7 separate regions of the Homo sapiens genome follow, and regions 1, 2, 3, 4, 6 and 7 are each linked to region 5. The links come from fine-mapping of genetic effects on gene expression. A gene starts in region 5. Each other region holds a variant in brackets. All regions are shown on one strand. Distances are from middle to middle. Region 1 overlaps CSGALNACT1 (chondroitin sulfate N-acetylgalactosaminyltransferase 1). Region 2 overlaps CSGALNACT1 (chondroitin sulfate N-acetylgalactosaminyltransferase 1). Region 3 overlaps CSGALNACT1 (chondroitin sulfate N-acetylgalactosaminyltransferase 1). Region 4 holds the start of CSGALNACT1-AS1 (CSGALNACT1 antisense RNA 1). Region 5 holds the start of CSGALNACT1 (chondroitin sulfate N-acetylgalactosaminyltransferase 1). Region 6 overlaps CSGALNACT1 (chondroitin sulfate N-acetylgalactosaminyltransferase 1). Region 7 overlaps CSGALNACT1 (chondroitin sulfate N-acetylgalactosaminyltransferase 1).

Region 1 (4,066 bases), 53 kb before region 5:
CATTAAATACTGCTTGAACCATCATTATAGCCTCCTAACAGATGCCCTTGTTTCTGATCCCTCCTCTTCACCATCCATCACACCACCATTGCAAGATGAATCTCTCTACAGTGGAGCTCTGAGCCCCTCACAGCCCTTCCCAAAGGTATTCAGTGGATCCCTAGAGCCAAACTCTGGGCCAGGTGCAATGGCTCACACCTGTAATCCCAATGCTTTGGGAGGCTGAGGCAGAAGGATTCCTTCTGAGACCAGCCTGGGCAACATAGTGAGACCTCATCTCTACAATAAAATTAAAATTTAAATATTAGTTGAGGATACACCTGTAGTCCCAGCTACTTGGGAGGCTGAGGCTGGAGGATCAATTCAGCCCAGGAGTTGAAGGCTGCAGTGAGCTATAATCACACCACTGCACTCCAGTTTAGGTGTCAGGGTCTATGTCTCTAAAAAAAAACTTAATTAATTTTTTAAAATTCAAATTCTTCAACCTGCATCTGCTCCCAGCCCTTTCCCACCTTTCCAGCACTCCCCTTCCCAAGCAAAACCCTCCAGCCAAACTAAGCACTGGTTGTCCCCTGCATGCACCTGGAATGCTCCATCTCAGTCCTTGTCACAGACTGCTCTGTTGGCCAGACACCCATCTTCTCCCATCCATCACCCAGTTCCATGTGTCTATACCAGACCTCGTCCTCAAGACTCAAGTCACATACCATGTCAATGACTCCTTCTGGACAAGGGCTGAGCTGCCATGGATCTAGTGCAGAAGGAAAAGCTCTGGGTTTCAGGGTCTCCCCTAAAGGGAATCAGTGTAGCCCAGCCCCCCACCCAGTAGCCCCCACTTAGACCAGGGCCAATGACTAGATCCACTTCTTCCCCTACACCCCTCTTAGCCCCCTTCCTGGTGTGGGTTCACTTCCCTTTATATCTCATCTGATCAACATGATCACCGTGGACAGAATTCAAGCTCAAAAGGGAAACCTGTAACCCTATGGATGTCTGAGGCAGGGGAAGAAGGGAGGTCATTGGGAAGTGCTCACTAGTGTCCCTCCAATAGGATGCTACTGTCTTCTGATCTATTACCAAAATAACCCAAGACCCTGAAATCGAGAGCTTTTCCTTCTCAACTAGACCCATGGCAGCTCAGCCCTTGTTCAGAAGGAGCCATTGACGTGGCATGTGACTTGGGATTTGAGCCACTCGAAGTTGTTACATAATAAGAACAGGCTGACCTCTCTTGGTTTGTTGGTTGGTTGGTTTTGAGACGCCATCTCACTCTGTCACCCAGGCTAGAGTGCAGCGGCGGGATCTCAGCTCACTGCAAGCTCTGCCTTCCAGGTTCATGCCATTCTCCTGCCTCAGCCTCCTGAGTAGCTGGGACTACAGGCACCTGCCACCAAGCCCGGCTAATTTTCTGTATTTTTAGTACAGACAGGTTTTCACCATGTTAGCCAGGATGGTCTTGATCTCCTGACCTCATGATCCACCCGCCTGGGCCTCCCAAAGTGCTGGGATTACCGGTGGGTGTGAGCCACCATGCCCAGCCCTCTCTTTGTTTTTAGTGCTCCTCAGACCTTCAGGTAACTGGAGAGTTGGTTACTACTGACTGCACAGCACCTTCCACAGTAAAACAAAGTTTAATCAATACAAGAAATCCTCTCATGGTCTGCATGTCTCCCTGATTGATACAAAGTTATCAGATTCATTCACTCAGAACAACATATTCTACACCAAGTAATTT[T/A]TGTGATTAAGTTTAGTTCTCTACAAAGTACGTTACAATTAACAGTGTTTTTTAGGAAACTGCCCATGCACTGGCTTTCCTCCCTTATCCTACACGCAGCTCTCAGGAGCCTCTTACATAGTACGGGTGCATATCTGGCAGTGACATCTTTCCTGAGAGCTGTCAGACCCTTGAGGGTATCATCTATGTCTGATTTGCTCTTCCAGCCCCACTCAGTAAGCCTAACACACTACACTGCACATGGGAGATCTTACTTTTTAAAGTTTTGAATGAATGAAAGAATGAGAATGCTCTGAATTAACCAAGCTTGATGGTTAATTACATAATTACATGGATCATTCTTATTCTCTTCTCTCCCTCCTTTCCTCTCTTCCATTTCCCCCAGTCCCTGGAAAAACAAGGCACTAAACGAATGTGCTGCCAAAGGAGAAAGAAGAAAGGTAACAGGGCATTTGAATCACAGACCCTTCCAGGCCGATATTATATTGTTAGATGGAGAAGAAATTTTGAATTTTTCCAAAGTACCATTAATACTTTTTAAAAATAAATTTCTTGCATATCAAAACCACAGTCATCTATCACTTCACACCTTAAGATGGCTGTGATGAAAAAGTCAAAAATATCAAGTGTTGTCGAGGACTTGGAGAAAAGGGAATCCATATACATTGTTGATAGGAGTGTAAATTGGTATAGCCATTATGGAAAACAGTATTGAGGTTCTTCAAAAATTAAAAATGGAACTACTCTATGATCCAGCACTCTCACTTCTGGGTATATACACAAGGAAATAAAATCACTTTTTCAAAGAGATACCTGCACTATTTTCACTGCAGCATTATTCACAATAAGATATGGAAACAATTTAAGTACCCATAGACGGATGGATGGATGGATGGGTGGATAAATGGATGGATGGATGGAGAAAATGTGATATATACATAAAACAGAATATTATTTACCTTAAAAAAGTAGAAAATCCTGCCATTTGTGATAACAAGGATGAACCTGGAGGACATTATGCTAAGTGAAACAACCTAGACATGGAAAGAAAAACATTGCTCAATCTCATTTCAATATGGAAGTTTTAAAAGTTGAACTCAAACAGACTAAAAGGGTAGTTACTGTGTGAAAACAGAGTTGGGAAATGGGGAGATTTTGCTTAAATGATGCAAACTTTCCATTACAAGATGAATAAGTTCTGGTAACCTACATCATAGTGACTGTAGTTAATACACGTATTGCCCACTTAAAATGTGCTAAGAGGGTAGATCTTAAGTATTTGCACCACAAAAAGGTACTATGTGAGGTGATAATTAGCTTGATTATGGTAATCATTTCACAACATATACCAAAGCATCACATTGTACACCTTAACTGTATGTAATTTTTGCCAATTATACTTCAATAAACTTGGGGGAAAAACAAATAGAAAGTAAATCAGTAATTCTACCTTAAGGATAGTAACTCAAGGGTAGCTATTTATGCAAAGACTTACATCAAGAATTCCATTAACTCAGGGAAAAACTGGAAACAATTTAAATGTTCAATAATTATTTTCTAATGCATTTTTATGCATCCATTCAATGACATGTTTTTGAATAATATTTAGAAGGAAAAAGCTCATCATTTGAATTTTAAAATCCAGGGAAGGCTGGGCACAGTGGCTCATACTTGTAATCCTAACACTTTGGGAGGCTGAGGCAGGAGGCAGGAGGCTTAAGCCCAGGAGCTCAAGACCAGCTTAGGCAATATGATGAAACACCATCTCTACAAAAAATACAAAAAATTAGCCGGGCATGGTGGTGCATGCCCATAGTCCCAACTACTCGGAAGCCTGAGGTGGGAGGATTGCCTGAGCCGGGGAGGGGGAGGCTGCAGTGAGCTGAGATCGCACTACTTCACTCCAGCCTAGGCAACAGAGCGAGACCCAGTCTCAAAAAAAAATCCAGAGAAAAAAATGTAAGGCTAGAGTTTCAAAAATTGTACATGACATATTATGAATAGATGTTTAATATATAAATACAACCATAAACATAAAAGTAAAGCAACATTCCAGAATGTTGATGCTAGTTAAAGCTGAATAATCGAATGACAGGGCACGACTAATTTTCATTTTCTTTCATTTCCTCGATTATCTTCAATTACCTTGTATTACTTGATTATCTGAATCCCCGAACCTCCCCTCCAACATGAAGACAAAGGCAAAAAAATCTGGAGGTGCAGTAGCTACAAATAAACCCAGACATGGAAAAATACTAATCAGATCAAATAAAAACTAAAATAGATTTCTCCACCTCCCAATCATACAGGGCCCTTACAAAGCAAATAGCA
Region 2 (4,066 bases), 350 kb before region 5:
GTAGAAATTACCCATTAAATTTCACACTCCTAGTAACCCTTCTCCTTCAGATAGATTAAGTTTTGAGAATGACAAAAAGAACAACAGTGTACATGACGGCTTCATCATCTTTACTGTATTGCCTATAATAGCCATCTGATTATATCCAAGCAGCACTGGGCATACCGAGAAGCTTAACAGACACTGCCAGATACACATTTGTACATGTGGAATTGTGTGCTGAATACTAACAACACCTACCGTGTGCCTGATGTTTCCTAAGTGCTTCATACATATGAACCCATTTAATCTTTAAAACAACTGCATGATATACAAGGATTGAATCCATCACCCTGAATGAGGACATCAAGGTATGAAGACATCTAGCAACTCCTTTAAGATCCTGTAAATTGCAAATAAAATAACTGGAATCTGAACCCAGGTTGTCTGGCTGGAAAAACCATGATATCAACTACTCTACTGCGCTGAACCCCTATTACGTAAAATTAGATAAGACGATTTTTCCTGAAACAAAAACATTACTAAAATTAGATTCCGGGTAGCTATTTTCCTAGGCCTGATCTTCATCAGTGATGTGGAAAGGGGCAGTCAACCACATTTATAAATACAAAGAGGGGCTAGGAAGTAGATCACTGCAGAGAAAACAGCCCAGGTAGCCCAGGTATGTCACTTAGAGGCAATGATATGTGGATATAATTTAACAATGGGCCAGGCCTAGGGGCCCAGAGGTGGTAAGGATGGCTGATTGGCAGCATTTGCCAATTGCCAGTTTCCATGGTGTAAATACTTCCACCGTGATGGATTTCAAGCTACCACCCTGTCAACACGGAGTGAGGACTGGAAAGAAGTGCTGAAAACTGGCTCCCACGAGGCTGTACCAGTACACCACCGCCTGGAGGAGACCTCCACTGTATTAGAAAGCCCAGCTCAGTAAGATAACCTGTGCTGGTCACTGGACAATTTAGGGATAGGAACAGAGAGAGCATGCAGAGTTGGAAGGGGCCTTAGGCAAGCCCAAGACTCACTGTTTTCTCAGCAGCATCCTTGAGAATGTGCGACGTGACTGGGTTCTTGAAACCACTGTTCCGATACTGCTTTCCTTTGCTAAGTTTAAATTCCAGCCTCCTAATTCTAATGTTTTCGTGGGACCTTCTACAATCCTTCTTTTCTGTATGTCTTGGGCAGGCAAAGGGGGGTATTCTCCACTAGCATGTTGCTAAAGAGGGCCTCTACCCTTTAATGAAACTGTTTTACCTGAATAAGCTTTGAAAAAGAAATACCGTAGTTGAATATTATGCTGTCCCATCTCCTCATCAGCTACTCTCCACAACTTTAAAAAACCCAATTCTTAATTCTTAACTACACAGCCATAAAAAAGAAAAAAATAATGTCTTTTGCAGCAACATGGATGGAACAGGAGACTATTCTCCTAAACGAATCAACACAAGAACAGAAAACCAAACACTGCATGTTCTTACTTACAAGTGGGAGCTAAATGCTAAGAACCCATGAACACAAAGAAGGGAACAAAAGACACCGGGGCCTACTTGAGGGTGGACTGTGGGAGGAGGGTGAGGACTGAAAAATACGTGCTGCAGTTATTACCTGGGTGACCGAAGAATCTGCACACCAG[A/G]CCCCCGCAACACGCATTTTACCCATGTGACAAATCAGCACAGGAACCTCCTAAAAAGTTGGAAAGGAAAAAAATTCTTCACCACTGTCTTGGGCATCTGTGATATGAAATGTAAACAAGCACAAAAATGGCTGATGAGCCCACAGAGTGCAGCCCGGATGGGACCACCTGTGAGACTCTCAGACCTGTCCAGTTCCACAGTCAGAATATTGGATTGCCACTGCCAGCCTCATTAGACACCCATCCTTCTTACGCTGGGAGGATATGGACAAGAGCATGCAGGGCACTCACCACAAATCCATCAGAACCATGCCAGAGACAGGCCAAACACATGCCCTGAAGTTACTAGTATCATCAGAGCACAGAAAAAAGTATATATATTTGAGACCAGGTCTCACTCTGTTACCCAGGCTGGAGTGCAGTGGTGCAATCAGGGCTCACCACTGCAGCCTTGACCTCCTGGACTCAAGTGATCCTCCCACCTCAGCCTCCTGAGTATATGGGACTACAGGTGTGTACCACCACACCTAATTATGTATTTTTTTGTAGAGACAGGGTCTCACTATGTTGCCCAGGCTGGTCTCAAACTCCCAGGCTCAAGCGATCCTCCCACTTTGACCTCCCAAGGTGCTGGGATTACAGGCATTAACCACAGTGCCCAGCCACACGTGACAATATTAAGCACAGAGTTGAAAGGGGCCTTGGAAATCATTTCTCAATTTCCTCTAATGAAAACAGACAAGTTAATGTATTAATAATTCAGGTTTTTCATTATGGTTCTCTTCTCCCTCTAGCCCCGTGGTTCTTAACCAGGGGTGATTTCCCCTCAGAGGACATTTGAGCATGACTGGAGACAATCTGATTGTCAAAACTGGGTGGGAGATGCTCCTGGCCTCTAGTGGGTATAGGCTCGGGATGTGGTTAAACATCCCACAGTATAGAAGACAGCCCTCCACAGCAAAGAGTTATCTAGTCTAACGTGTCAGTAGTGCCAAGGCTGAGAAACCATGGTCCATGCACAATATACTATTTCCAAAAACTAAACAAAATGACATTCTTACTCCACAAAGCAGTCATATCCACAAATCATATTTTATTAGCTGTGCAATACCACCTTCCATTCATGGCCTGTGTTTTAATTAAATTTCATAAACTACCAGTACAAATCAATACAATGCATTTTTTAACACACCAACAGCTTGAATGTTCTTGAAGCTTTTAAACAATGAGTTTACTGTGAGCAAACAGAAGCAAGGACTCAAAGAGATAATTAGCTCATGCATCTGGTGCTGGCTAATAATTTTCACATGAATGAAGAAACCACTCTATGTTAACTGTATTTATTTTTAAAAAATAGTTTGAAATGGTAATAAAATGCAATTTTCAGAAGCATCTTGGTGATCGAGTAGAACTGCTTAATTTAAAAAATAATTCAGTTACTTCCACCTGGCCTGGGGTGGATAACATGTAGCAAAAACTTCCATCCCACTAGATTCTGGCAGATGGATTGATCTTTCACAATATATATATATATATTTTTTTCTCCATTTCTTCTTATGGAAGCCAGAAGCCAGGAGGAGCACCCTGTTTTGAAAAGAGATTGTTTGGTTCACACGGTATACTTTGGTTTATTTAAACAGGTAAGAAAGCGGTCCCTACTTCTGAGGAGAAAATGTGGTTTCTGACTTTTAGGTACATCACGATATCACCAGTCTGAATGAGTTTCCTTTTCTGTAAAGCAGAAAGTGTCATTTTCTTTTCCTCCAGTGTTCAGTTGCTCCTCTTCGAAAATACTCTTCAGAGAAAGTATCTGTACGTCTGTATTAGTACAAACCATTCCTTCCCTATGTCTCAATGCCTGACATTCAGTGCCTGACAGAATCAGCATTTGGCATGTCCTTGGATATGGCATCAATTTGATGCTTTGAACTGAAAGTTCTCATAATGCATCTCAAAGTATCTTCTTAAAAAATATAAAAATGTAGGCCAACTTGTGCTCTCTTGTAAGGCTTGCAAAGTGGTAATTAAATAAGCAGACTATAACTCACAAGGGAAAAAAAGTGCATTTTTAAATAAAAGAAAAAAACGGAGACAGTTAAAAGGACAACCAAAAAGATAAGCAGATTATTTTTGGTTAATCTTGGGGAAAATATGACACGATATTTATGGTTTCTTTTCTTTTCTGGTCCATTTTATTTTACTTAATGTACTCACTAGTATCATAATAAGCCTATCTCCTCTCCTGCCTTCTGATATTTTAGCATTCCTAGAAACTAGAGCCCTGCTGATAGGCTCATTCATATGAGGAGAAATATGCTTGCCTTTCATGCTAATGAATTTTTTACAAAACTGCTCTTAAATCATGAATATTTCAATGAGCACACAAAACAACAGGTCTCAGTGTGTTGTAAACACCATCAAAACCTCCACACC
Region 3 (4,066 bases), 300 kb before region 5:
ATCCTCAGTGTCAACCACAGTTCACAGTCTCCAGTCTGGGGATGGAAAGGAATTTATAAAGACAACATCAAATATTTATTAAGCAGCCCTTTATATTTTCTCCCAGTAACTTTATGGTCATGTTAATTGCATTTAATTATTTAATTGGAGTTTACTTTGCTTTTTTGGTGTGAAATAAGAATCACATTTTTTTCTGCTATGTTTGGCTAGTTGTCCTGACACCATGCCCTGAATAACCCCTTCTTTGGGTTTGAAATGCCATCTTTAATAAGGTTTTATGAAGCATTAAATACCCACAGGTATTTACCCTCTCGCATCCCAGTTTTTCAGAGACATCAACAGTCTCAGAAATGCCTTGACTGTGACATAAACTCCCTACTCAGCCTCCTGCTCCAGTGTCAGCTGTCCTGGCCAGATTCTCTTTGTGTCCCATTGTCCCCTGTCTGTATCTCTGCCACAGCGCCTGGCTCTGCATTTGCAGCTTCTGCTATTAGTGAAAGTAGGCACCGCATCTTCAATTCATCTTCTGATCCCCTGCACCTTGGTAGCATGTCTAGCACATGCAAAAGGCTCTCAAAACATCCTCTCCAGGTCACAAGTCTTCCGCCACCCATCCCTTCCTACCTCCACGAGCAAGGGACATCCAAATAGTAAAAGTCCATATGGTGGGCTGAGATGAATCAGCTCAAGGCAAACTGCCCTGGGATTTTTGTGTTCTTTTAAAACATTAACTGGAATCACGTTTCATTTCACCCGTTTTGAGGCTTGTAAGCTACTCATTTGACTATTCTCAATGAAACTTCCCTTCCTGTTTTCCTGTTTTATTGCTATTGTTAATTGCTTAAAATTCTGCTGACACTAAGGAAATAGCTGTTCATATATACCCAAGAGAATCCTGCTATTTCAGGCCCAGGAGTCCTACAGTGAGGACTTGTCCTTTCACCGAGCAGATACTTCTTTAGTGTAAGCACCACCTCAGCAAGCCTAACATGTCCAAGGACTCAGAGAATCAAAGCTCAGGACCCTGAACCCAGTAAGACATAGGCAGCTTCTTTGCCAAATGAACTTGCGATAACCTCGTCCTAGAAATGGGCATTCTAGCTGCTGAGAGTAATGATTTCACTTAATGCCTAATGCAAACCACATTCAGGTTCAACAACTGCATTCAGAACGCCGCAGGTTCAGTCATTCTGGAGATGTAATGTTTAATCAACCAGCGGCACTGTGCCATTCCAAAGGGAAAACCTACAGAGAAAGAGAGCAAAAACACTAAAAGAAGGTTGAAAGAAGCCAAAACTATAAAAACACTCACTTCAGGACTGGAGCCAGAGGAACACTGCAAACAATTATGCGATCATGCACAAAGGAGTATTCTACAAACTGGGAAAAGATCAATCTATTAGCCCACTCTACTTTGGATTACATCATGGCTAAAGGCAAGCTCCAGCTAATTAAAAGAAATTTACGAACTAGGGAATATGAAAAAGCTAAGGGAATTGAGAACTGCTATACCTTGGAAAGAAAAGACTAGGGGAGTTGTGATGACCACCTTCAAATATTTGAAAACTTATGATGTTTAAGAAGAAATAGACTTGTTCAGTCCTCCAGAGGCTAGAATTAGACCCACCAGGCAGAAAAGACATGGAAGCCGACTTCAGGCATAAACAATAAAGAACTTCCTATCCAGAGATGATCAACAAAGCAGCAGCTTGACTAGTAATGTAGGCAGCTTCCTGGTGCACACACACATTGCCTAGAGAACCCTACGTCAGAAAGACAGTCTCAATTAAGGGAAGATTAGACCAGATGACCTCAAAGGTCTAAGACTATTTGATTCTAATCTTCAAAAAACTTAGTTATAAGTGGGTTATCCTTTAAATTCAAACAGAGTACGCTCATGAACCAGAATTTTGAAAGGTATCAACCACACCCTTATACTGAACATTATGCCTTTCAATAATGTAAATTTACTAAGATTAAAAATCAAGGCTGGGCACGGTGGCTCACGCCTGTAATCCCAGCATTTTGAGAGGCCGAGGTGAGCAGATCACCTGAGATCAGGAGTTCAAGACTAGCCCGGCCAAAATGGCGAAACCCGGTCTCTACTAAAAATGCAAAAATTAGCCGGGCATGGTAATGGGCATCTGTAATCCCAGCTACTTGGGAAGCTGAGGCAGGA[G/T]AATTACCTGAACCTGGGAGGTGAAGGTTGCAGTGAGCAGAGTTCGTGCCACTGCACTCCAGCCTGGGTGACAGAGTAAGACTCCATCTCAAAAAAAAAGAAATAAAAAATCAGCTTGATCTTTCAAGATTTATAATTAGACAGTAGGATTTTCTATGTTTAAAACAAGCTGGTGAAATCACTTAGCTGGTTATCCTCAGCCAATATGTGCATCTGAGCCATCACAGCTTCTAAGATCCAACACCGCACAATCAAGGGCTTAAAGGCACACATCTAAAAACTTCATCAGCAGGCCTGAAAAATGAAACCCAGCTTAGTCTCATTGAGTAGCTACAAAAATGTGGGCTTGAAACCTTCTTGGTATAATTCTACACTTAAGTCTAAGATGATGCAGGTTACAATAAAAGATAGATTTGGATTCAATGCATTGCAGCCACCACTAGAACAGGACAGCAGGTGAAGGCAGCCTAGAGCCAATCAAGAACACCTTGCATAGCTCGCCAACTGTCAACGTGGGCTCTGCCACCACCAGCTCCTCTCTCCTCCTCAAGACTCAAGGCTGCTCACTTGCCTGGGAGTCTTGGTTCCTGCTATCCCCAAACCTGAGCCCCTCCGCAAGTCAGAATGAACATAACAGGCATTCAGTCATCTTTGTAGATCCTGGTGAAAACCCAGTCCTTCCTGCTTTTCACTTCTGAAGGTCAATATGCTTGTAAGGCAGTTTTCTAATTGCTCTAGGGAAAGGCAAATACAAATGATAAACTTTACGTGGAGAAAACAGAGCTGAATAAGAGAAAGGAGGCTTTGTACTCGGCAGGGGAAATGAAGGAGATGACGGGAAATGATATCAGTGTTCTAACACACATCATGCGGAGGAAGATAAACACGTGCGAACAAACCAACCTGAAATTCTGCATGAACTGCCGGAACTTGTCCACCCTTTTTGCTAGAGGCACGATAACATTGATAAGCGTGTTGGCCATGTTGAGCTTTTCATTTTTCACTTTCATGATGGGGCCGAATGGTCGAAATAAGATGAGCCGTTTGAATTCGTGTTTGTGGTCCCCTTTGAAGGTGAGCTCATACAATGTCCCTTTGTCCCTTTCTGTTCGGTAGATCCCTGTTAAGAGAAAAACAAGGAAAGATAGTTCTAAAAATTAACCTTGGCTGCTGAGTGTTTTTCAACCGAGATCTAGCACAGAATGCCTTTAAAAAGTGTTTAAGATGAAATCTCTCCAACAATTATTCGAAAATTCAAAATGCTCCCAATTAAAAAATTCCAAAAGAAGTCAAAATAGCATGAATTTTAAAATCACAGTTATGAAGACTGCATAAAAACATGGGAAAAAGCTTGAAATGCTGGATACAAACTGTATTCATAGGATACAGAGGCATTTGCAAAAGGATTTTTAGGAAACAGGCCAAAATAAGACTGACTATGATATAGAGTGGGATTATGTGTTTTTTTCTTTTCTTCTAGTATCCAAATTTCCTGCAATATGATTTGAAGAATATTAAAATAATTATACTTAATTTTAAAAATCAGCAATAAAATTATGTCTTAGAAATTAAACCACTTCAGCCTGGGCGCAGTGGCTCATGCCTATAAACCCAGTACTTTGAGAGACTGAGGTGGGCATATCACCTGAGGTTAAGAGTCTGAGAACAGCCTGGTCACTATGGTGAAACCCCATCTCTACTAATACAAAAGTTAGTAGAGCGTCATGTTGTGCGCCTGTAACCCTGGCTACTTGGGAGGCTGAGGCAGGAGAATCGCTTGAACTCGGGAGGCAGAGGTTGGAGTGAGCCAAGTTTGTACCACTTCACTCCAGTATGGGCAACAGAGCGAAACTTTATCTCAAAAAAAAAAAAAAAAAAAAAAAAAGG
Region 4 (4,066 bases), 77 kb before region 5:
AACAATTAGAAGACTGTTTTTCAATAAAACAATTACTGGCCAACATGGTGATTCCCCAACTCTACTGAAAAACAAAAAATTAGCTGGATGTGGTGGTGGGCACCTATAATCCCAGCTACTTGGGAGGCTGACATGCTTGAGCCCAGGAGGTGGAAGCTGCAGTGAGCAGAATCGTGCCACTGCATTCTAGCCTTGGCCACCCTGAGACTCTTATCTCAAACAAACAAAAAAAAAAATTACCCCACTAAATGCTACTTAGTCATACTGCAAATATGTTTCCTAAATTGTTTTCTCAGGGACTAATCCCAAGTTTTAGGGAATCACTATTAACCTTAACACTCAGCATACCGGGGCAAAAAGGCCTAACAAGAAGTATCCAGACATCTCTGCATAGAGGGCTCTTTAGAATTAGCATGTAATACTGAAACCTAACAAACAGGCAAAGTTTTCGGATTGGGACTCCAGACTGAGAATTCTTCAAATAACCAACGACAGAGTACAAAAATGATTCCAGGATAAGTCACCAGGAAGGGTAACTATTACAGAAAGGTAGAACTCATTTTGTCCTCATAGCTAAGCAGTTACTGATTATGTCTGACGTAAATGCAAGTCAGGCACGTAATAGAAAATGTAAATAGGCTCCAGGAATGTCCCTGTGTCCCCAGCTCATTAAGCAGAGAAGAAAGTCCAAGACAAACAGTGTAAAGGAAAATGTCAACAATAAAGTCATCACTGGTGGGACCTCAAGGCAGCAGAGTGGAATCACAACTAGATCCTGCAATGTAACTAATCAAAATCTTATGAATTTTTTTTTACAAAGCAGAAATTCCATACGTTTTGACCCACGAAGGGGAGAGCTTCAGCACATGAAACAGATTCGTCTGGAGTAATAGGAAGTATGTCCAAATGAGGGAGGAGGCATCCAAAAGGACAAGACCTGGTAAGTGACACCAAGCAGGTAAGACCAGGAAGCCCTCATTATAATGACAGTAACTACAACAATAATAGAAACCAATGCAATTAGTGGTTACTCACTAACGGCCATCCCATGCTGGGAGCTTGACTGTCTCCTCTGGTATCACTTAATCCTGACATAAAGATTAAGTAGGAGATATCATTATCCCTATTCTATGAATAAGGAAACAGTCTTACAAACGTTATGCAATCAATAGTGTAGAAAAATTTCATAAAGACTTGAAAAACTTTCATAATTATTCTATGTACAGGAACTCTTCTTAAAGGTAAGGAAATTCAAGACAGCAGCAAAGCCATAAGAAACTTCCTCTTGGGTGCAGTGGCTCACACCTCTTATCCCAGCACTTTGGGAGGCCGAGTAACGTGGATCGCTTGAGCTCAGGAGTTCGAGGCCAGCCTGGGCAACATGATAAACCCCCGTTTCTACAAACAAAATACAAAAATTAGTGGGGTTTGGTGATGTGCATCTCTAGTCCCAGCTACTTGGGAGGCTGAGGTGAGAGAACTGGCTTGAGCTCAGGGAGGTCGAGGCTGCAATGAGCCATGATCATGCCACTGTACTCCAGCCTGGGCAACAGAGGGAGATCCTGCCTCAAAAAATAAAAAATAAAATAAAATAAAACACAAAGGGAAAATTCCAACAACTTAACCCATATACAGATCAATCTCATTTTAAGGTACTGACGCAGGATGCTGACAATGCTGATCAAATACCCCTGTAGCCACCTTTAAAAAGCTAGGATACTCGCTATTCTTCTTCAAATCGCCTTTCAACCTGTGCACAAAGGAAGGTCCGGCACCACCTGCTGTGACTCAAGACAGTCATGTGCCATCAATATTCACCAGCTACCCACAAACAGGTGCTGGTGCCCAAATTCCTTGGGTTATGAAAACGCCACTCTTAGGTTCTGACATACAAGAGGGTGGAAGAGGAAGCCAGAGTCCCGGCAACACTTTACCTGCGGCTTTATAGAAATAACTTCACACACTCTCATCTCAATTTCCTACCCTATAAAAGTGAGGAATGTGCACTGAATTCATAGACCTTCTGAGCTGGAAGGGGGCCTACATACCGGCTTAGAGTAGATTCAATTCATTTACAGGTTATAATGGACAAAGCACCCTTCCAGTAGCAAAATTCTAAAAATAGCCACGACAAACTTTAGTTCTGAAAGTTTACTTAACAAATTACTTGTTTGAAATTGGAAATATACTTCCCCACAGGAATAATGTTATAGATTTCTATGTCAACCTCCAAAAGCCTATTTCACTTGTAAACTACCTGAAATAGTATAGTTGGCCCCCTGCATCCATGGGCTCCTCTGCATCCATGGACTCAACCAACCACAGATAAAAAATATTTGGAAAAATAAAAATTAAAAAGACAAAAATTAAAAATAGTGCAAATATAGGCCTGGAATGGTGGCTCATGTCTGTAATCCCAGCGCTTTGGGAGGCCAAGGCAGGTGGATCACCTGAGGTCAGAAGTTCAAGACCAGCCTGGCCAAC[G/C]TGGCAAAACCCTGCCTGTACTAAAAATATAAAAATCAGCCGGGTGTGGTGGCGGGTGCCTGTAATCCCAGCTACCTGGGAGGCTGAGGCAGGACAATCACTTGAACCCAGGAGGTGGAGGTTGCAGTCAGCAGAGATCACACCACTGCACTCCAGCCTGGGCAACAAAGGAAGAATCTGCACCCTCGCCCCACCCCCCCCCCCCCCCACAAAAAAAGAGAATAGTGCAAATTTTAAATACAGTATAACAACTATTTACATAGCTCTTACACTGTGTTAGGTATTACAAGTAATCTAAGAGGTGATTTAAAGTAGTCATGTGTCACCGAATGACTGTGATAGGTCTGAGAGATCTATCATTAGGCAATTTCATCAGCACGTGAACATCAAAATGTACTCACACAAACCTACACGGTATTAGGTTTTTATTTATGTATATGTTTTCACATGGAAAAACAAATATCCCAGAACCATTACTGAATATCAACCATTTTTCCTACTTGATCTGCAATGCCACTATTTAGTGCCATATGTCAGGTTTCTACATATGCCCCATTATCTTATGGGACCACAGTTGTATATGTGGTCCCTTGTTGATGAAAACTGCGTGTGACTGTACAGACTGTATACAAGACGATGTGTGTAGGTTACACACCAATACTACTCCATGTTATACAAGGGACTTGGGCATCCAGATTTCAGTATCCCCAAAACTCCTGGAACCAATCCCCTGAAGATATGAAGGGACGACCTTACTACTATCACAAGGTCATAGAAGCTCATTGGGATACTAGGAAAGCATCTCCCACCTCCCTGCAGAGCCCCCACTGCCCCTGCCAAGCCACCAACACCAAGCAATAGGAAGAAATTCACAGCAAGGAAAGGAACAGAGTAAGAATGGAAACAGTAGAAAGGCAGGAATTGGATATGTGTAAGAGGTTGAGGCAAAGAATGAGAACTAGACCAGCAGATCCATAAATGCAGCGGGAGAGAGAGGCAAAGGGGGAAATGGTGCATCTGTCCTTCGCGCCCCCATCCCCATCGCTGGCTCCTCCATCACAGCAGACTTCTGTCGCCACCAGCACAACATTAAAAGGAAGAACTGGGGACCTAGGGACCTGGGAGGAGAGAGGTCAGAGCAGATACAAGACAAGTCTCCTGGGTCTGCATCAGGTAAGTGGTAAATCTGCAGGCGACATACTGCCCAAATCTAAAAATAACAAACAGACATTTCTAAAACCATAATTTGGTACGTCCAAGGGTTCCTACGCTTGAAGTGCCTGACCTCGGCACTTGCAGCACCTCATCTGGCCTGGATGTGCTTCCAAGTTCCCACTTGCTCCCTCAACTCCTCCCATCTCTGTCCCCTGCCCTGGGAATGCCAGGCTGGGCCAGAGTCTGGGCCCGTGCCCTGAGCACCATGCTCAGAAGGCACTGCTCACACCTTCTCTAGCCACACCATGTCATAGGGCAGAGTTCACAGGGCCCCCAAGACATGTTCACCTGGACACCACCCCACCTTCTGGGTCACACTCCAGGTCTCCCTGGGCCTGCTGCTTTACCTGCCAGTGTCCATTTTCTC
Region 5 (4,066 bases):
GTTAGACATGGAGGAAAGAGGAAAGATGAGGACCCTTGCAGACCTTACTGATATTTCTTTTTAATGTAATAACATGGCATTAAGAACAGAGCTAGAGCAACATGAAGATTGGTAAGTATCATTCATCATCATATGAACTTAGGATGGATTCTTAGGAAGATACAAGAAAAAGCTGAAGTATTGCCCCAAAGTTTCAACTCCTTATTTTCAACACCTATACTGGGCAGTATCTGAGATTCTCCAATAAATAATCAATAGATAAATGAATAGAAAGTAGGGTTACAAAGAAGAAGGAATTTTTACAATTTTTTTTAAATGTTGAAACATGCTGGAGTTGGGGATCCCTAAATGTAAAGAAAGACAAAAAAAAAAAAAAAAAAAAAAAAAGACAACATTTATGAAGTGCATACTGTGTGCTCGGGGCACTAGGATAAGTTCCCAAATGTAATTTCCTCCTGCTAAACATCTCTATAAGGTGAGGAATACTATTGGCATTTTACAAATTAGGACACCAAGGCTAGGAAAGGGGAAGTAACTTGCCCAAGGTCATGCAATTAATAAGTGGAAGAAGCCGCCTGGAGCTCAGGTCTCTGGAACAGCAAAGACACAAGCTCACTGCACTGTAATGTAAACGGATGAATCCAAATGTCGGAGATTCTGCTTTAAAACCCACTAATACATTTTACAAATAGACATATAAGATTTAGCACACAAAGATGAACAGGATTAAAGTATTTTGATATTGTATTATGTGGAGTACATATGGTGTGGCAGCTCAAGGCAGACGAATTATTAAATATGTACGGTGATCTTACAATGGGTATGGCCCGTCTCTTGCTTTCTAGGAATTGACCATCTTCCGGCAGCCCAACACCTAGTCCCCTGTGTATTATGCACTATTACAAAACGTGTTCAAGTCGCCTTTTATGCCTAAGGCTTACATAAAAATTCATCTTGCCTTTCTGCGTCTATTTCCAAGTTTGAAGGACCTTTCTCCCTCCAATTAGCAACATTTCAGCACTGCACAGGGCTTATTAATGCTCACTGTTGCAAGTAACACCAAGGTAATTTGACTTTCTTGTAGGAACAATGTCGACGAAATCCTACAGAATTAAATTTAAATTTCCAGTTTAAAAAAAAAAACCGTGAAAGAACACTTCATTACCTTTATTATCTAGACGTATCTAATGACGTTAAGTAAAAACTGCACCAAGGCTTTGAAACCAGAAGAAAAGTGGAGTTTGTGAAATTTAACCACTCCATGCTTTTTATTAGTATTTCACTTATGAGTATTTCCCGAGGCTCACTGTTTTGGCAGGCACAGTGCTGTTAACATCTCTTCCTTTCTCACCATTCTTTGCTCATCGATGAAAAGATAACTTCAAAATCTCTGACAGGAATGCAGGTGCAGGAAGTGCGACGGAAACAAACAACTTTGCCTCCGCTTCCTACAGCTTTCCTCTCCTCCCCGCCCTTCTAGCCCCCATCCCACCCCAAGATCATGCCCTCGAACAGCTTCTGCCCACCGATCGCACGTCCCCTGGGCATGTTCGGGCAGCGGTGACCCTCAGCCACATCCCCCACTAGCCCGGTCCCGGGCAGGCGAGCGCGCTGCCCACCGGCCACCCTCGTCACGCCCCCTCCACCCTCTCCATCCCAGCCACAATAATACAATAACCGCAGTCATCGCGCGGCACGTGGAAAGGCTACTTTTCAGTGGGTTTTGCAGAAAGCAATCAGACAGCGGAAGGCCACGAGAAACGCTGGTGAAGCCAAACCGACCCCGGGAGCGCAGCGGCCCCGGACCCTCCCTGGAAGCTCCCTCCGCGTCCCCGCGCGCCCACCTGGAGGCGCCGCGCCCTCCGCCTGCCAAGCCGGTCCCCGGCCCCTGCCCGTGCCCTGGGCCCCCGGCGGGCAGCGGCGGAGGGAGGCCAGGCGCGGCACCGTCCTCCGCAGCTGCACGAGCCACCCCGAGGTCGCGGGGTGGGCGGGCGCGAGCTAGGCGCGCGGGGCTGTGGGGATCTGCCGGCGCCACTGACGCCCCCGCGCGGCACACCGCGCCCGGCTGGCCCGGGAGGGGACCCGACTCACCCGAAGCGCCCTGCTAGCTGCCCGGCCCGGCTCCGGCCGCTGCCGCCGTCGCTGAACTTTCCCTCCTGCGCGGCCGCCGCGGACTCGGCTCCACCTCCCGCTCCGGCAGCCGCGGAGCCTCCAGGGACCCCGGGGGCGGGGAGCAGCGGCGGCGGCGGCGGCTCGGGCGGGCGGGCGCAACAGCGGCCAAGCCTGGCGCCCCGCCGCAGGGTAGGTCCGGCGGGGGCGGCCAAGGCCGGGCTGGGGTCGCGGTTGGCCGCGTACCTCCGCGTCACCCACGGCCTCTCTGCAGTGCGTCCCTGCGCCCGTCGGAGCGGCGCCCTGGCCGAAGCCTGTCACTCTCGGAAGGGGCCGCGCTCGGACACCAGGGGCGGTTTACGCGTGACTGGACACCAAGAGCCGGAGAAGTTTAGAGACTAGGACACTGTGGCGTGGCCCGAGTTGCAGGAGAGAGGTGTCCAATCTCCATGGGGTCCTTACTCTTGCAGGACAGAGTTCCCCATCCCCCTGCTCCACCCGCTCTGTTCCCTTGGCTGCCCTCCCCGCCGAGCGCCGACTTCCATGCAAAAACTTTGTAAATCGCACTTCGGGGAATTCACGCTTTAGTCGCGGTCTCTGCTGCCCTGGTCAGCTATAACGCCTCCCCTAGAGAGCTTTTACTTACAGCGAAGGTCAGGAACCCCTGTAACTCTCACACCGCACCACTGTGGGTAAGCGATGTCTGCAGGGACCCCTGACGGCCACTGGGAGGCCAGGAGAGAAGAGGGAGAGGAAAGGCTAAAAAGGCAAGTGGAGTGTTGGGTAATAAAAGATCCACCGCCACCTCCAGCACACACAGGCAGGCACCCTCCAGGGCCACAGGTCGCCTTTTATCTGTAAGTGCTCCAGCGCATCTCTGTGGGAGAGGGAGTTGGGAAATAGGATCGCCAATTTTCAGTGTAATTGAGGGGGACTCAGGAGGAGTCAGTTAGACTGGAAGAGGTCATCACCTGCAGATGCGGTTAAGCAACTTGCAGAGGCCCCAGGGCTGAGCCACCGCAGAACCGGAGCTGGAAACCAGTCCTATGACTCCTGAGGCAGTGCTCTTTCTACTACCTGGCCATGGCTCCTTCTACTGCCTGGCTCAGAGTCTCCATCTGGGAGATTCCGGCGCACCAGACTTTATTGTGGGCACAGGGTAGGCAGTCCTGAGGCTATAGGCACAGTCTTGAAGCAGCTCGGTTTCCATTAAGCTCCTGCTTACCTGCAGGAAGCATCCCTGAAGCAAGTTTTGCTTCCCACCTGGACTCCCCAGGTGGACCTATCCCCACCCCACACCCTGAGTGAACTCTTCACCCTCGTGACCTAATATACCCACTGCAATTCAATTGAGACTTGGGAAACAGGGAAGTGGGTGTTTTCCAAATGAATGAAAAATATGTCTATTCTGCTACTGCCCCAAAATGCTGCATAATGGAGGTAATAAATAGTTAACACAGCATACGTACACACATACATAGGTACAAGCCATTGGCCAAGGCTCCTTCCCACATTATCACACAGCACCCTCTTAAGGCAAATCATGATACTCCCCATTTTGCAGACGGAGGGCAGGACATGGAGGCTGGCGTTGGTTATGAGTTGTGTAAAGGTTAGAACCTTCACAGTCAAGCACTCTTTGGGTAACCAAGTAACCTCTTCAGAGCCTTCCCACTGCCACCGAAGCATTCCTACACCTCCCTATATTGGCAGGTGTGTTGTCAAAGCATTGATTTTCTTTCCTCTCCTGAAGCATCTCCCGTCCTTCTGCTCAGTGATATCTGCAGAATTAGAAAATACAGTTTCAGCATGGAATCTGGTCTGGAAGACAGCCCAGAGGACTTGAGCAGTAACTGCCAGGGCCCACCACAGACACACACGGTTGGACTCAGGTTCTAGACTATGTGGACAGGCTTGGGGAGGGTGGAGGAGGCGTCCTTGTTGCTGCAATTGGTTC
Region 6 (4,066 bases), 89 kb before region 5:
TGACAAAGGACGTCAATTTTCCCCATTCCTCTCTCTTAATTCATAATAGAAGGGTTTGGTTAATTACACCTGGGATAATGAATAACTAAAAATGTGTTCTTCGCTACGTAAACAGAACACATTCTCTATTCATTTACAGTTAACATTTCAACTTCCTCTTAGTCTCACCTCCCAGGACAAGATCAATGGACCTACATTCATCTAACCACATTGTCGATTTTCCAGGCTTCTTATTTTCTCCATCTTTTTTCTAGTTGAAGATTCCTCATTGTTTTAGACTTTCTTCATCACAGCTCTCACATGGCAGTCCAGATTTGGGTTATTTTTAATCTTTTTGGAGTTATTTCAAGTTGTTTGTCTAGTTTAAATCCAGGCAGACTTCAAGATTTTTCCCTTTGTTCCTGTACAACACTGGTGAAAGGAGGGTGCTCCACGGAAGCTGGATTTGAATGCTAGAAAAGGAACAAGGTATTCTAACAGTGTTCTTGCCACAACTTTCACCGTCAGACCTTAAAATCTGAGTGCTGTAGGGAAATTAAAACCATCTATTGTCCTCATATTATAACTAGAGGAATAGAAGCCCAGACAAAATCAAACAACTTGCTCCAGCTCCCATGAAGAAAACCCTGTCTCTTCTACTTCTTCCTATTCTATTTAGCTACTTCACCCAATTCATCTATTAACATTTTCTCAGCCAGGTGTGGTTGCTCACACCTGTAATCCCAGCACTTTTGGAGGCTGAGGCGGGTGAATCACTTCAGGTCAGGAGTTCAGACCAGCCTGGCCATCATGATGAAACCCTGTCTCTACTAAAAAATATAAAGATTAGCCAGGTGTGGTGGTGAGTGCCTGTAATCCCAGCTACTCAGGAGGGAGAGGAGGTGGGCGGATAGCTTCAACCCAGGAGGCAGAGGTTACAGTGAGCCGATATTGTGCTACTGCACTCCAGCCTAATTGACAAACCAAGACTGTCCCGGGAGAGAAAGAGAGAAAAGACACAAAGAAAGACAAGAAAGAAACACAAGAAACAAGAAAGAAAGAAGAAAGAAAGAAAGAAAGAAAGAAAGAAAGAAAGAAAGAAAGAAAGAAAGAGAGAGAGAGAGAGAGAGAGAGAAAGAAAGAAAGAAAGAAAGAAAGAAAGAAAGAAAGAAAGAAAGAAAGAAAGAGAGAGAGGAAGTGAGGAAGGGAGGAAGGGAGGAAGGGAGAGACAGAGAGAGAGAGAAAAAGAAAGAAAGAAAGAAAGAAAGAAAGAAAGAAAGAAAGAAAGAAAGAAAGAAAGAAAGAAAGAAAGAAAGAAAGGAAGGAAGGAAGGAAGGAAGGAAGAAAGAAAGAAAGAAAGAAAGAAAGAAAGAAAGAAAGAAAGAAAGAAAGAAAGAAAGGGAAAGAAATCTCATCACAATATCAAAAGACATAATTTCAGCCAGGTGCACAGGCTCATGCCTGTAATCCCAGCAAGTTGTGAGGCAGAAGTGGGTGGATCGCTTGAGCTCTGGAGTTTGAGACCAGCCTGCCAAACATGGCGAAACCCCATCTCTACCAAAAAAAAAAAAAAAAAAATACAAAAATTAGCTGGGTGTTGTGGCACATGCCCCTCATTCCAGCTACTCAGGAGGCTGAGGTTAGGGGGACTGCTTGAGCCCAGGAGGTTGAGGCTGAAGTGAGCTGAGATCACACCACTGCACTCCAGCCTGAGCAATAGAGCAAGACCCTGTCTCAAAAAACAAAAATCAAGACATTATTTCTATTCTACCTTAGTGCTTAAAGAGTGAAGTGATTTAATTATGACTTCTCACAACGGTAAGAGAACAATGAACTGCAATGAGAGAGTCA[G/C]TCGTGTTCCACCCCCTTTGAACCAAGGCTGATGAATTATGAACAAGTCAAGGCCCTTAATGCAACATGACCACAAAACGGCAGTAAGGAGAAGGTACTTGAAACCCTAAGACTAACGTCTCTTCCTCAGATCAGGAGAGCTTTCAAAGAGCTGCAAAGGTCATTTGCTGCTTCGTGATCAAAAATGTAAAAATCATAGGCCATAAATCACTAACTTAAGCCACAGAAAATGTAATGTAAGATTATACCATCCACATATTTTCATTATAAGGGTATTACATACTGGTAAGAATTCAAAAATCTGATAAAGCATATAAAAAAGTATTAAACTCAATGAACGATCATGGAATTTCCTCCAACTAAATATTTTAAGAAGAAATAGAATTAAAGCGCAGATCACAACTGTGAAAATGAGCATAGTGAAGTTGAACTGAAGGAAACCTAACCATTCAAATATTAGAAGAAGCTAGAAAGTAAGAATATAAAAACTTGACCAGCATATATTACATCCTTTAACTTTTCCAGAGAGAGAAATACAACTGGCTCCCAAATATGAAACATGGTCATCTACACAATGAAAAATAGTTTTCATAGATTTTTCCTATATTTTGTTCAAAAATGCAAAAAAGGAATGGTAAAATCACACAGCATCTCATCACTGCTTTCCTCTGTTCCTTTAATTGCACCCTCATCTCTGCAGTCACCTCAGGGACAAAGTTTGGGGACAGACACCCCTCAGCTTCCTTAGCCACTCATAGCTCAATCTCTGTCTTGCACATACATGCACGGTTACACACACACACACACACAACTTTATCAAAAAAGGCAATCATTCCACATGAGCCTTTGTTTTTGTAATTTTAGAATTTAAAAACTAAAAAATTATTAAGAAGTTGAATCCTTAAGTAACATAAGAAAAAAGTATTCTTAAATAACTGATCAATTACTTCATGAGTAAACTCAAACCCAAAGATTCCTAGCTGTATACATCTAAAATGCCAATCTATTTTATTTTCATTTTTGAGACCAAGTCTTGCTCTGTCACACAGGTTGGAATGTAGTGGCATGATCTTGGCTCACTACAACCTCCACCTCCTCAGTTCAAGCAATTCTCCTGCCTCAGCCTCCCAAGTAGCTGGCATTAAAGGCGAGCGCCACCATGCCTGGCTGATTTTTGGATTATTAGGAGATGGGGTCTCACCATGTTGCCCAGGCTGGTCTTGAACTCCTGACCTCAGGTGATCCACCAGACTAGGCCTCACAAAGTGCTGGGATTACAGGAGTGAGCCACTGTGCCCGGCCTGCCAATTTATTTAAAATGGGAAAATGGGATCAATCACGTTGGATAAGGAACACCCTTCTTGAAATACTAGGAAACCTTTTGAAATACTGTAATAATCTATGAATTTCCAGTGATCAAAGTATTCATTTCTCACCAAAATGCTTCTGCAGAAAAACAACTTATTACAGATGAATATTTACAGGCTCTCAAACAAATTCTGTGTAAAACAAAAGGTCTCAGATACAGCAGGCTTCTTGGAGTCTAGACATGTGGATTTCATTCAAAAGTATGTTGATCATTTGCTATTTGGCTTTGAGAAAATAATTTAATCATTGAAAATTTACCTCCATTTCCCCAATAGGAATTTGAGTAGATTTGCAAATGCAAGCACTAGTCTAACCCAGCAGACATGCAACCACAGAAGAGGAAAATGACTACCATCTATGTTTCTGGAAGCAAACAACTTTCTCTTCAATTTTATTAATATGTACCCTTGCTTAATAAATTTCATCCCGAGATGGAGGACACTATCATAAAAACTACAAACATTCAAAGCACATGGTTACTCTACCAAACCAAATAAAAACTGTAAACCGTTTCTAATTTTTTTGTTGTTGTTTGTTTGGTTTTTATTTTGGAGATGGAGTCTCCCTCTGTCACCCAGGCTGGAGTGCAGTGGCACGACCTTCCTTCACTGCAACTTCTCCCTCCCAGGTTCAAGCGATTCTCCTCCTTCAGCCTCCTGAGTAGCTGGGATTAATAGGTGCCTGCCACCATGCCTGGCCAGTTTTTTGTTTGTTTGTTTTTGTTTTGTTTTTTTTAGTAGAGATGGGGGTTTCACCACATTGGCCAGGCTGGTCTCAAACTCCTGACCTCCAATAATTCACTGGCCTTGGCCTGCCAAAGTGCTGGGATTACAGGCATGGGCCACTGTGCCCAGCTGTAAACCATGTC
Region 7 (4,066 bases), 37 kb before region 5:
GAGTCTCATGCTGTCACCCAGGCTGGAAGGCAGTGGCACAATCTCAGCTCACTGCAACCTCTACCTCCCAGGTTCAAGTGATTCTCCTTGCCTCAGCCTCCCAAGTAGCTGGGATTACAGGTGCCTGCTGCCACACCCCTCTAATTTTTGTATTTTTGTATTTTTAGTAGAGATGGGGTTGTACCATGTTGGCCAGGCTAGTCTTGAACTCCTGAACTCAAGTGATCCACCCACCTCAGCCTCCCAAAGTGCTGAGTTTACAGGCGTGAGCCACCGAGCCTGGCCACAGGCTTTCTATTTCTCCTCCATTTTCCTATTTAAAAACTAGAAGCCAAAGATTGAATTTGCACAGTTCTTATGCTATAGCAACAAAACGCACAGTTGCAGCAAGTGAATCTGTGTTTTTAAAACACATTCTCTTTTCTTTTTTCTTGCCATCAATGTACTGTTTCTATTTCATATGAACTGATAATTATTATATGCAATGCTTTCCCATCATGAACACTTAGTCATTTTTTAAAAACATTGCTTTGATCATGTCACTTCCCCGGCCCAAAACATTACCCAGTTTGCAGTTGTTTGCCATTTAGCCATCTCTAAATCCACCCAAATTGCCTCCCATGCCTCCCACACACAAAGCTCTGCTCTGGCCAAACAGGACTTATTTGCATCCACTCTACCCTTGCCTCTTCTGCAAGGATCACCACGACCGTGAAGCCCTCTCAGACCACAGGAATGAACTTCCTCTCTCATCTGGATTCCTGTAACCCAAATTCCCCATCATGCTAAGATGTCCTGACGTATTATGGCTATTAACATACGCCCTGCAAGATCTCTCACCGTTGTAAAGAGTTAAGCTTCCCTTAAGTAACCATCTATCTCTGTCTTGTAGACACTGCGAACTGTGTAACAGAGTCTTTCCCTCCACCTGCTGACTGCTAAAACCTGAGAGCTAAATTTGTACCCTATTTCTACGAAGTACACAGGACCTGATACCACACATATACAATATACACATACACTATACAAAACAGTAACTTATACTTCAACCCTGGCTCAAATTATCACTTCCCATCCTTGTTTTCTCTTGGACTCATTTGTCTTTCTGATTTATATTTTATCTTGCCACATTGCATGCATTTTTTTGGAAGGTAGGATGAAAGTGAGTGAGAAAAAGCTAGAATTCTTTCCCATGCCTGGCACAGACTCCCTGTACTCCCTGTGATGCGAGGTTGACAAGTGGATCTTCTTATGCCGATATTTGTCATTATCTAAGGGGTATGTCTGGAAATAGGCACACATTCTTCAATCTGTCTCTGTTATGACCAACCAAAACTCAGGAGGCCTCAGAACCTGGGTACATTAAACATCACAAAGGTCTTGATGTAGGAATCTCCCATCGTTTTCAGAAAAAAACAACAAGACAATGGATGCCAGGAGCTAAATGTCCAAAATAGTTGTGTGATGATGGTAGGAGCAAATCAGCAAAAAATCCCTGTGTTGTTTCTTACTGGGATTCTAGACCTTGATCTTCCCCTCTTGGTATAAAGCTTCACGTCCACAGTTAAAGCCACTCATTCTGCAAGTGTCTGTCTGAGTCATTTCTACGTGGGAGGATGCCAGACAATGCCAGCTGCCTACATTCACCTCTCTTCTTTATGAGTAGCACCCCAATTTTGCTCCAGGCAGCCATACATTCTTCCTCATGAGAAAACAACAATGAAAAAACACCTCCCTCGCCTAGATCCCCTGCAGCTAAGTATTGCCACATGGCATACTTCTGGCCAGTGAGACATAAGCTGAAGCTCACTAGTTAGGGTCTTCCAAGAAAGCTATCATTTTTCTAATAATAGAAGGAGCACACTAGGCTGGCTCATCCCTTTTGACCTCACTTTTTGCCCTTTAGACTTCCTGGAAGGTGGATGTAATCACAGAGGTACAAGAGCCATTTTGCAAACCTGAGAATGATGAGAAAGGCAGAGGAGAAAGCTAAAGGGCACTGGTGACATGGAAGAGCCACTGTGCCAGTCTGGAGCCACTACCCCTGTCCTTCTCCTAGCACAAGAGAAGTGAAACCCCGCAATTCATGCCAGCATTTTAGGTTTTCCATTACAGGCAGCCAAAGTCAATCCCTAGTGATGTAGGGAGGCAGCGTGCTTAATAATAAGAGAGATAAATAAGACGCGATCCCAGTCCACACATGGTTCTCATGTATCAGGGAGAGATAAGAAACTCGGAGGAATAATCATAAAGCCTGATGGACCATGACAAGCACATAAGCCATAGCTGGGGTGCTCAAAAGAGTTCAGAGGAGGGAGAAATGGCTTCTAGCTAAAAGCA[T/A]TTAAATTGGGCCACTTCACACTAAAATATCACATTTATCCTACCTGGAGAGACACTGTTCAATCCAAGAGAATCAACCTCTCCTGGTAGAACTGTATGCATTACATGTCTTGGGAGGTAGTTTCGAGGAGTGGCTCCCTTCCCCGGACAGGGCTAAGGAGTGTGGCTGTGCCAGGCGTGGCATGGGAAGACATCATGCTGATTCTCTCTCTCCACCCTCCCTCCCCTCTACCTCCCATCCACTTGCTTGTTCTCAGAGCCCAAAAGGGAAAAAGCTTTCCTCCATCGCTCTCTGGATGACTCTGGTGCTGCTGGCTCATGCCCAAGAATGTCCTGGCCAAGCAGCATCCCAGAGGAGGGTTTTGGTTGCATGTTTTAAAACATCACAACGAAGCCCCTGATGAAGAATCTGAGCCAGATACCTGTCCCCAAGGGGGCCTGCTGAAGTGGTAAGGACGGCCCTGTGCAGAGGCCCTGAGACCTCAGATCTCATCTCCTATAGGAGCTGCACAGCCAGGACAGAGAAGAAAACACACACTGGGTTTTAAAGCACTGTTTCCCGGACCACACTAGGTGACAATAAACATGAGATCCAAGAATCAGTGACCAAACAGTATAGCCAGCCCTCTCCTTTTCTGCTGGAATTCAGTCACCTTGAAATGTTCCCCATTGGGTTCTCAGTTCAAGGCTCATACCCCAGAACCACATTGGAGATATCTGCCAGATTTTTCTCTTGAGTCCTAGTCCTGTCACCACCATTTCCAAAACCTGCTGTGAACAACATCCCGGAGACTGTGAAACTGATCTCCAGGCCCATGCAACAAGCCCAAGTCCCCAGCCAAGACCTCAAGCCCTCTGCCTACTCCACCCACCATGTATAGAAGGATTCTAATCAACAAAGTACAGAAATCACTGTTTGCACTCTGAAATCTGCAACTTCAAAAATATTTTACCCAAAACACATAGGCACAGACAACAACACATGAGACACGATCCTAGTCCGCACATGGTTCTCATGTATCAGGGGGAGATAAGAAACTCGGAGGAATAATCATAAAGCCTGATGGACCATGACAAGCACATGAGCCATAGCTGGGGTGCTCAAGAGAGTTCAGAGGAGGGAGAAATGGCTTCTAGCTAAAAGCATTTAAATTGGGCCACTTCACACTAAAATACCACATTCCATGACAAACACAGAATTCTGTCTGTCATGGAAAATGTTAAATTTGAAAAGACCGCCAAAGTCTTCTCATCATATCACATACTTGAGAAATATCACGCATTATGCTGAGAACACATTTATGCCTAATGAACTGCACGATATATGCAAATTAAAACATGCTAATTGGCTTTAGCTGTTCCTTTACATAAAGTCAATACTTCTATGGATCATTAAATGTATTCCTTTCATATTAATTTCAAAAGAAAAATTAATTGCTAAAAAAACAAATTCCCAGGTGTAGCCAATGTAAAGATTCAAATCTAAAATGTTGCTACAGTAAAACATTTACTGTGTCAGCTCCCAATACCTAGTAAGTCTTCGACTCAAGCAAAAAAAAGAAATTTCATATTGAATTTTTTTTTCTGTGATTTAAAACTGATTAATTCATGTTGGTTTAAATTCAATAGAAACCTTTTGCTTACATTTCAAATTTGTTTAAAATAAGCATTTAGTTATCTATCTTTTTTTCCTAATTAGATGAGAAAAAGAACATTAAAACCAAGA

The links.
Region 1: its variant is fine-mapped to the expression of CSGALNACT1 in monocytes after LPS (Quach 2016, PIP 0.95).
Region 2: its variant is fine-mapped to the expression of CSGALNACT1 in whole blood (INTERVAL, PIP 0.98).
Region 3: its variant is fine-mapped to the expression of CSGALNACT1 in whole blood (TOPMed, PIP above 0.99). The same link has a PIP of 0.9 or more in amygdala, anterior cingulate cortex, atrial appendage, breast, caudate and cerebral cortex.
Region 4: its variant is fine-mapped to the expression of CSGALNACT1 in thyroid (GTEx, PIP above 0.99).
Region 6: its variant is fine-mapped to the expression of CSGALNACT1 in whole blood (TOPMed, PIP above 0.99).
Region 7: its variant is fine-mapped to the expression of CSGALNACT1 in esophagus muscle (GTEx, PIP 0.94).

What each region holds. Positions count from the first base shown.
Region 1 is chr8:19,702,067-19,706,132 of GRCh38, forward strand. The region is part of intron 1 of CSGALNACT1 (chondroitin sulfate N-acetylgalactosaminyltransferase 1); the gene reads right to left. Among named protein-coding and RNA genes, the nearest start is that of CSGALNACT1-AS1, 26 kb to the left of the region's middle. The variant T/A (reference allele first, on the strand shown) is at 1,736.
Region 2 is chr8:19,401,455-19,405,520 of GRCh38, forward strand. It overlaps CSGALNACT1 (chondroitin sulfate N-acetylgalactosaminyltransferase 1), which reads right to left. Exons shown (of 9, transcript NM_001354483.2): 9 at 2,707-4,066. Among named protein-coding and RNA genes, the nearest start is that of SH2D4A, 90 kb to the left of the region's middle. RefSeq lists an enhancer at 4,007-4,066. The variant A/G (reference allele first, on the strand shown) is at 1,634.
Region 3 is chr8:19,455,344-19,459,409 of GRCh38, forward strand. It overlaps CSGALNACT1 (chondroitin sulfate N-acetylgalactosaminyltransferase 1), which reads right to left. Exons shown (of 9, transcript NM_001354483.2): 4 at 3,083-3,299. Among named protein-coding and RNA genes, the nearest start is that of SH2D4A, 140 kb to the left of the region's middle. The variant G/T (reference allele first, on the strand shown) is at 2,180.
Region 4 is chr8:19,677,888-19,681,953 of GRCh38, forward strand. All of the region lies in intron 1 of CSGALNACT1 (chondroitin sulfate N-acetylgalactosaminyltransferase 1), which reads right to left. It overlaps CSGALNACT1-AS1 (CSGALNACT1 antisense RNA 1), which reads left to right and starts at 658. Exons shown (of 2, transcript XR_007060841.1): 1 at 658-940. RefSeq lists an enhancer at 1,408-2,008. The variant G/C (reference allele first, on the strand shown) is at 2,485.
Region 5 is chr8:19,755,095-19,759,160 of GRCh38, forward strand. It overlaps CSGALNACT1 (chondroitin sulfate N-acetylgalactosaminyltransferase 1), which reads right to left and starts at 2,183. Exons shown (of 9, transcript NM_001354483.2): 1 at 2,092-2,183.
Region 6 is chr8:19,665,721-19,669,786 of GRCh38, forward strand. All of the region lies in intron 1 of CSGALNACT1 (chondroitin sulfate N-acetylgalactosaminyltransferase 1), which reads right to left. Among named protein-coding and RNA genes, the nearest start is that of CSGALNACT1-AS1, 11 kb to the right of the region's middle. RefSeq lists an enhancer at 1-36. The variant G/C (reference allele first, on the strand shown) is at 1,831.
Region 7 is chr8:19,718,117-19,722,182 of GRCh38, forward strand. The region is part of intron 1 of CSGALNACT1 (chondroitin sulfate N-acetylgalactosaminyltransferase 1); the gene reads right to left. Among named protein-coding and RNA genes, the nearest start is that of CSGALNACT1, 37 kb to the right of the region's middle. The variant T/A (reference allele first, on the strand shown) is at 2,341.